Regions from separate parts of the Homo sapiens genome. Here region 1 is linked to region 2. Evidence: fine-mapped expression QTL. A gene starts in region 2. The other region holds a variant in brackets. All regions are shown on one strand. Distances are between the middles of the regions.

Region 1 (4,391 bases), 57 kb after region 2:
CTAGAGGGTTTGGGGGCAGGAGAGAACCATGACCAGATGCGACCTATGAAAAGATCACTTTGGATGCTTGCAGAGATGGGGTGCAGTCCAGGTGGGAGCCATGCAGATGCAGAGAGCTGCTCAGATGGGACACAAGTCTCAGAAGCAGAAATGCTGATGAATTGGCTGCAGGTGAGAGGCAGAGAGAACTCATGTGCCTTCCTGGGTTTCTGGCATGAACAACTGGGGGAATTTCAGGGGCATCAGCAGAGCTGGGGAAGCCAGGTGCAGGGAGTGACAGGAAGTCACATGCCATATTTTGAACTGTACCTTGGAGAGAGGGAGCCTGAGAGGCATCCAGCCAGCAGGTGAGTGCATGCATGAGCTTGGAGATTGCCGAAGTCGGCCCGGAGCCACAGAGGTGGGAGCCACGGTGGGGCACGCACAGACCACAGACCTGAAGCCTTGCAGGAAGACAGGGAGATGGAGAGGAGATGCGCAGGAGACTGAGTCCAGGCACAACGGTGCTCAGTGCTCGGCTCTGAGGTGGAGGAGGCTGAGCTGAGAGAGCACAGGAGGGTGAGGTTGCCTGGGCGACAGGAGAGGAGAGGGCCTGGAGAAGAGGCCACCAGCTCTGTCACCTGCTGCTGAGGGGTCAGATGAGCACAGGAAATCGCTACTGGATCTGGTGGCTCTGAGGCCCTGGATAGCCCTGGGAAGAGCATCTTCCAGGGAGGTGGGGAAGCCAGAGATGGGTGGGTTGTGAGGTACATCACAGGTGAGGAGGTGTAGCCCATTCGTGGAGAAATTGGAGAAGTTTTGCCCTGAAGGAGGGCAGAGAGACAGAAAAGGGGCTGGAGGGGCAGCTGAGGGATAAATGGTGCTTTTTTGACGGGTGACGCACATCTTGTGCAGGAACTACCTGAAAACTTGTGAAGACATTAGAAAGAAGAGCCAAGACCCAAGAAGGGAATTGAAGGTGCGAGGGAAACTGTCATGCCCGCCCTGCCCTGGCCTTCTTATACGGGTGCCTGTTCCCTGGCTGCAGGTCACGTGCCACATCTTGATTCTGATGGGCATAGCACATTGACAACTGAACAAAGCCACCCGGCTTGGAAATGGTCCCTGGTCAAGGTGAAGGACACGCCTGGTGCTGCCAGAGGCCACCAGGCAGCTGCAGGCACGCCCTCTTCCTTCCTCCCACACGCTTGGTAGCACAGAGCCTCATTCATCCAGGCCAGCAGGTCACAGCCATGGGAATGTCATGCTCAGTTCCCAGGGAAAAGGGCAGAGGCTTTTTCCCCTGCAGAAGAACCAGTCTGCACCTAGGGCCTTGCCCGTTTTCCCCAAGAGTCCTGTGATTATATAAGCATCATCTGTCCCTGATGCTGGGGTCCTGGTCAAGACTTCCCCAGGGCGGGGCTGGGGTGACACAGCTAGGCCCTGGCCTGGAGTTCAACCACCCTTTGTCCTGATGGCACTTTATAAAAACACTGTCAGCCTGGTCTCTGGGATAACAGGGTTACAAGCCTCTGGATGACTAATTGGCCCTCAGAACTAACTGGATCAAATACAAACTTTGGGATGATATTGCGTGCCCCCAGGCCAGGTGGAGACCTAGACTGAGCATGGACACTGCCATGGAGAAAGGACATGGGAACCGTGGGGTCCCCCTGCTGCCCAGCCACCCCCACACCTCGGGTTGAGGTGGGATGTAGGTTACAGATAAGGTTAAAATACAAATGGAGGCAGGTGAAAAGTTGGGTGGGTCCGGAGGTTTGAATCGCAGCAAGGAATGGATCGCTTCCTCTTCACCCAGACCTCAGCTGCTCCCTAAATCTCAGTGACCGCCAAATCGGTGCCTCTGGCCCACGTCTTTCTTGAGCCCCAGACTCATTTGTCCAACGGCTGCCTGGACATCCCCACGCCACGTCTCCAGGCACAGGACACTCGTGTGCCTCTGCCCCCC[A/G]TCCCGGGCTCCCTGTCTTGGCTGAGCACATCCCCTTCTACTCAGGTCACCCACGCCACAGGCCCATGTCCTCCAGAAATGGTTCAGCTATGCCTGGTCAATAGTAAATCCTAAGTATCTCCCAAGTTCTATGGCTGCTGCCTCTGGGCTCTGGGTTTGAATCCTGCACCACCATCTGCTCACTGTATAATTGGGTGAGCAACCCTCTCAGTCCCTGTTTCCATGCCTGTAATATTGGGATTGTGAAAGATGTCATAATCAGAATGGAGCCACTTTTGTTAAAAACAAATCCTGACAAATAGAGCCAAGGGAAGGCCATGAAGAGAAATATTCGCATGCATAAATGCCTAATAACAAAAACTACCACGGCAGACTATGAAAACTGCAACCTTGCACAAAAAATGCTTCTAGGAGGACAGCTGCCCAGTAACTACCTGTCCAGCCTTGGACTGGTGTCCCTCTTGCAATTAACCCTTGCAGCCAAGGATCATTACTTCAAAGCAACAATACAGTCCTCACTTTCCTTCACCTTTGCCTTCCTTCATCTCCCTGAAGGCACACGTGCTTTTTACTCTGGCAGGCATACTCCCTGGCAGTGCCCTATTCCTGAGTAAACATCACTTTCTTTGAGAGCCACTCTCTGGTTATTTAGGTTGACAGGATAATCACAGTACGCACCTCATAAGGTTTCTGAAGACTGATGTTAATACTCTAAAGCATCTGGAGGGGGACTGCCAGCAGCACCGAGTTCGCACTCGCTGTTACCAGCTGGCGCTCATCATCCCACCCTCCCTCATTGTTCCCCCTCCAGGCCCGGCTCCAGAGCTCTCCCCCACCAGACACACAGGTGTTCAGGTCACTTCCTGAATAAAGGCCAGCCGCCTTAATGATGGCGTCAGACCCTTAGCTGGGCATTTAAGGCTCCCTCCCGGCCCTCTCACATCCCCACATGCCCCGGACAAAGCGCACACGCCTCGTCATTTTCCAGCCATGCTTCGTGCCCACGGCCCTCCCTGCAGCGGGAATCTCTCGCTCTGGTGACGGGGCTAATGTGGGCGCCGAATCTGAGCCCGGCATGTCACCTACTTTACCTCGTTGGTTCCCACAACAATCCTGTGAGGCAGGTCCTCTTTTGGCCTGTTTCCTGGAAGCTCGGTGATTCTCAAGAGGGAACAGCTAGCCGTGGAGCCAGGATTTCAGTCCAGGTGTGGCCTATCCCAAAGTCCAGGTGGTTCTAGTTAATCCACACAAACCTCTCATGAGTAGATGACATTTCAAAGGAAAAAGGGACCTGACGTCTCCGAGATGGGAAAGGATGGTAGCAGGGTGTATGTCAGCATCTCCCCAGGGCAGAACACATCTGGCGGCATCTGCAATGTCTGTTTTGCTAAGCATGAGCGTGTTTCCACAATTCCCTCTCTGGCAGGTGATGAATTAGAGTTGGTCCCAAGAGCACATCGTGTCAGCTGTGAGGGGAGGTGAACTGGGGCGGGCCCCGTGTGGTCACAGCTGGCTGGCGTTGTCAGAGACCTCTGGCTCCCCTTGTTGTCAGGGTTCCCCATTCCCTGCACCTCCCCCTTCAGCTTCACCACTGTGGGCCCAGTGTGGGGGGCTCTGCACTGAAGGGTGCCTGCCCTTCTGTAGGTCCGCCATGTCCTCAGGGTCGGCAGAGGGATCTGCCCTTCCCCCCGGGCTCCTCACCTCCTGTCTATCCTCCCTTCTCTGCTGACTCGGCCCCAGTGCCAGCTGCAGGGGACAGACTTACAAAGGCCTCTGATTCCCCTGCCCCACGAGCTCCACCACCACAGGAGGCCTACAGTAACCCCGGTGTGTCACTCGGGGTCCTGTCCCAGGATCCATCCCTAACCAGCAAGGAGAATGAATTCAACAGATGTTAAATGAACAAATAAATGAGTAGTTGAATACATATTTTTGCTTTACAGCTTTAAATATCAGAACTAAAACTAAAAGTGATCTTATTTTTTCCAACCTTCCCTAAAGGATAAATTATCAATGTATATTGCAACATATTCTCCAAAGGGACCCTATGATCACAGTATTTTAAAGTAACACAGATGGCTCTCAGTGGAGTGATTAAATTGCATCTATGTTACATTGGTTGATGGTAAAGGGGTTGCGGCTTTTTGTGTGTTTTGATGGCGACTTTATTTTAGGGTATTGTAACTGCACATGCTCCTCCATGAGGAGGAAGTGATGAGGGAAGGCGGGGACCCTGGCAGGTATTGGATGTGCATCCACCATGAACTTCAGCCTCTGTAGCCCCATGGTGCTGGGGCCACTGGGAAATGGTGGAATGGCTGGCTGAGTGGCAATCGCTCCTGTCAGGAAATCTAAGCTAATGTTATGTCCAACTGAAAAAGAAAGCCAAGAAAACAAAACAGGTGCAGAATTGCAATCTGAAAAAATTTTTTAACACTTTAAT
Region 2 (4,391 bases):
GGCTGGAGTGCAGTGGTGCAATCTTGGCTCACTGCAACCTCTGCCTCCCGGGTTCAAGTGATTCTCCTGCCTAAGCCTCCTGAGTAGGTGGGACTACAGGTACATGCCACCACGCCTGGCTAATTTTTTGTATTTTTAGTAGAGACGGGGTTTCGCCATGTTGCCCAGGCTGATCTCAAACTCCTGACCTCATGATCCGCCCGCCTTGGCCTCCCAAAGTGCTGGGATTACAGGTGTGAGCCACCATGCCTGGCCTGTTTTCAGTTTTTGACTATTAAAAATAAAGCCACCATGACATTCATGTACAGAGTTTTGTTTGAACATAAGTTTTGGTTTGTCTAGGATAAATACCCAGGAGTGTGATTGCTGGGTGATATGATAAGCATATGTGCAACTTTATAAGAAACTGTCAAACTGTTTTCTAGAGTGGTTATGCCATTTTATAGTCCTACCAGCAATGTTTGAGAGATCCGGTTGCTCTGCATCCTCACTAGCATTTAGTGCTGTCAGTACTTGTTATTTTAGCCATTTAAATAGGTGTGTAGTAGAATCTCATTGTGGTTTTAATATACATTTCCCTAATGGCCAATGACACTGAACACTGTTTTACATGTTTATTTGCCATCTGTATATCTTCTTTGGTGAAATGACTATTCAAGTCTTTGATCCATTTTCTAACTGGACTGTTTACTTACTCTGAGTTTATATGGTTCTTTATATATTCTGGATATGAGTCCTTTGTTGGATACATGCTTTGCAAATATTTTCTCCTAGTCCATGGCCTGTCTTTAAACCTTAGTGTTAATTGCCATGAAGGCACTGTCAACAAAGTCTACACTTCAGGAAAGGTGCAGAATGGAGTTCTCTGGATATAGTCAAATCACCTGAAGAGCTTTACCCTCAGAACAGGCGAACTAGAAAAAATTCTACAAGCCAAAGAAATAAATAGCAAGCTGAAAGATAGATCTGAAGAAATTAGCCAGAATGTGGCTCAGAGAAACAAAATGATGCAATATTTTAAAAATAATAATTTAGAACCTCAGAAGGTTTAACCTATGCCTAATAGGAATTCCAGGAGGAGAGTCTAGAGTAATGTTGTCCAATACAGTAGTAGCCAATAGCCACATGTCACTACTTAAAATGTAAATTAATTAAAACTAAATGAAGTTAAAAATGCAGTTCCTTGGTTGTACTGGCCACATTTCAGATGCTCAATAGCCACATGTGGCTGGTGGCTACCATATTGGACAGTGCAGATATAGAATACTACAGGAAATCCTACTGGACAGTGCTGATCTAGGTCATAAAACAAGTCTGAACAAATTTCAAAGAACTGGTATGATACAGATGTTTTGTGGAAATAAACTAGACATTAGAAATTAAAAACAAAATAACTCCTACTGCCTCCTCTCACCTTTTTCCCCATTACAATTCCACCTCTTAATGTCTTCATGTTCTTGATGAGAAGCAGAACGTCCCTACTGTGTTCCATGGCACCAAGTTCCCCAGAACCCGCCAGTCTCTGATGACAGAACATCCTGGACCGCCCAGCTCCACACCCCAACCCAAGAAGTTCTCTAAAACACTGACCATGACAGCCTGGGGTAGGTTTCCACTTTAACATTCTGACCAAAATTCTCAACTCGATGCAGTCAGAGTCTGCGCAACCTGGGACCTCGAGCCAAGAAATCCTCAAGTGACCTTACTTGGCAAAACCAACAAAACAACCAAATACAGGTCTCAAGCGATTTACAGCTCGGTGCTTAACTCGGTCACCGGCCGAGGGGCAGCCCTCTGGCGCCAAAGCCCCGCCTCTCTATGACGTCACACGAGGAGCCCTGAAGTGGCGGTCAAGCTTGAGGCGTCATCTGGCTGCGCCTAGTGGGCCGTTGCCTTACAGTTGCTGAGAGGAGGCGAGAGGCGGGGGCGCTAGGGCCGAGATCATGTCTGACTGGGAGAGGTTTCCTTGGCAGCAGAGGACGCTAGGTTTGGGATGAAAGAAGCTGGGCAGATGCAAAATCTGGAGAGCGCGAGGGCCGGGCGGTCAGTCAGCACCCAGACTGGCAGCATGACCGGTGAGTGTCCGGGACCCTGCTCCCGCCACCCTACCTTTCGCTCTGCCCTGTGCGTCTCCCGTCATTGAACTCCAGATTCCTTGTCTGAGCCTCTTTGCCTCCCCTGCTGCTTTTGGATGTCTCCTGCCCGCCCTCTGCGTGTCCCCTCCGCGGTCGCCAGGACCAATCGGCTCGGTCGCACTGGCTTTTGAAGTCTCGCTTTTTACCCCTGTTAGCTACTTCTCACAGGACCTAGAGCTGGGGCCTCTGAGGTCAAAGAGCCTGAACATTTCCAAACGGCGCTTTTGCCTTGATTTCCAAATTAACCGCACGTGACGCTTTCCTGTATTTCGACTGCTTTACCGTCGAAGGTCAGCGCATTTTTCGGGTTGTGTTCTAATCGCTTTCCTTTTAGCAACGCCCCATCACAGTCCAAAGAAAAGCTTGCACCACGACGACGTCAGATGCGAAGACTTTTCACAGCTTGCTTTGGGTTGTCCCCCTCAGCTATGTGTATTAGCTGTACCGTTTTTTCCTGCAGGGTGAGGGCTGGAGAAAGAAGGCTCAACTTTTTAAGTGGAGAAGGAGGTAGCCACGACTAAGGCTGAAGCGTCTACTGCTAAGATACCTCTGACTCTCTTGTCCCCTATCTTTTTCTGTGCCTCTTGCGAAAGCAGCTGGGCTTAGGCTGCAGCACCTAAGTGGCATTGAGATTGGCTCCCTTTTTCACCATTAGTAACAAAGTTTAAAGTGTTTGTCGTCTCTTTTGTAGGTCAGATACCAAGGCTTTCTAAAGTCAACCTTTTCACTCTGCTCAGCCTCTGGATGGAGCTCTTTCCAGCAGAAGCCCAGCGGCAAAAATCTCAGGTATAATTTGTTTCATAGTTTTTCCCCTTAGAAAAGCAGTGGTTTAAAATCTGAGTTTATTGCTCCAGTTTCTGTCATACCTAAAACCAAACTTAACAAGGCTTAAGATTTAAAAAATATCTTTATTGATTAACATGACACTTTATAATTCCCAGCCGTAATAAGTCATCTTCCATTCTAAAAATACTTTCTGAGAATACCATGTTTATCGGGTACTAATGGTATTCATATGTCAGTTCGGCTAATAAGATTATTGTCTATACCACATAATTTCCCCCAATTATATATACTGTTGGTGTTTTATCTAGGTAGTTTACTCCTCTGCCACAGAAATATATAAATTGCCTGGAGATAGAGACCATGTCTTATTTTACCTAGCATATACCCTTTAGAGTCTAGCATTATATGAGTGCTAATTGATTAATGTTGGATGGAAGTAGTCTCTTTTTGGATCTTGAAAGACAGGATCAAAACAGATTAGAAATGGGCTGTGTGCAGTGGCTCACGCCTGTAATCCTAGCACTTTGTGAGGCTGAGGTGGGTGGATCACCTGAGGTCAGGAGTTCAAAACCAGCCTGGGCAACATAGTGAAACCCCATCTCTATTAAACATACAAAAATTAGCCAGGAGTGGTGGTATCCGCCTGTAGTCCCAGTTACGCGGGAGGCTGAGGCATGAGAATCGCTTGAACGAATCGTTGGAGGTTACAGTGAGCTGAGATTGCACCACTGCACTCCAGCCTGGGTGACAGAGCAAGACTCCATCTCAAAAAAAAAATCAGAAATGTATAGTAAGAATAATCATAAAAGCCAATATATTGGAATTGGAAGTATAAACATCCTGCGTCTTTTCTTTCTCCTACCCTTGGGGCAACAAGGGGCTAGGTTCTCATTTTCCTCCATGCTTGGAATGGCATGATGCTAGGTTCTCATCATTTCTGTTTGATAATTTTGGAAGCTTAGGGTGTTGGCATTAATTTTTATAGGGGGCCACGGCCATTGGAAAATAGTATTAGGTTAAGTTGAGCATTTAAGACTTTTTTTAAAACAGAGGTAAAATGAGGGGGGTGGGGCAGAAAATTACACATGGCTTCTCACCACTCTAACAACATTACTGTTAATATTTTGGTGCTTCCAATCTTAAGCATGAGGTTTTTTATTTTTACTCTTACAAAGTTGTAGTTATATTCTGCATGTACTCGCTGAGGTTTCCAACTTGCCCATAATTCTGCTGAAAGGTTGCTTTAGATTTTCCAGAGAAAGACTATAAATCCTTAAATTCCCACAGTACTCTTAGGAGACCACCTACTCTTTTCATTTTACTGTGGATGAGGTTTTGTGCTTGGCACTGGAGACACAAAGCAGAAAAAACATGGTCTTTATTTTCTAATGAGTAGAAACACTAGGCATTTAAACAATTAAAACAGAATTGGTGGAGTGAGTACATAGTATAAGCAGAGATGTTGGCAAG

Alleles and levels. Positions count from the first base shown, and alleles are read on the strand shown. Sizes are in standard deviations (SD) of each study's normalised expression.
As copies of G replace A in region 1, the expression in prefrontal cortex of the gene that starts at base 1,881 in region 2 goes down (small effect, 0.20 SD a copy in BrainSeq).

What was found. PIP is the estimated chance that this variant, and not a neighbour inherited with it, causes the effect. A credible set is the group of variants that fine-mapping cannot tell apart.
Region 1: its variant is the best candidate, but not a certain one, in a credible set for the expression of CDADC1 in prefrontal cortex (BrainSeq, PIP 0.80).

What each region holds. Positions count from the first base shown.
Region 1 is chr13:49,302,630-49,307,020 of GRCh38, forward strand. No RefSeq gene overlaps it. Among named protein-coding and RNA genes, the nearest start is that of CDADC1, 57 kb to the left of the region's middle. RefSeq lists a silencer at 1,044-1,338 and an enhancer at 3,568-4,067. The variant A/G (reference allele first, on the strand shown) is at 1,949.
Region 2 is chr13:49,246,045-49,250,435 of GRCh38, forward strand. It overlaps CDADC1 (cytidine and dCMP deaminase domain containing 1), which reads left to right and starts at 1,881. Exons shown (of 10, transcript NM_030911.4): 1 at 1,881-2,075; 2 at 2,827-2,921. The coding sequence starts at 1,994. It overlaps LOC105370203 (a long non-coding RNA gene), which reads right to left and starts at 1,796. Exons shown (of 2, transcript NR_135318.1): 1 at 1,591-1,796. RefSeq lists enhancers at 1,742-2,304, 1,774-2,003.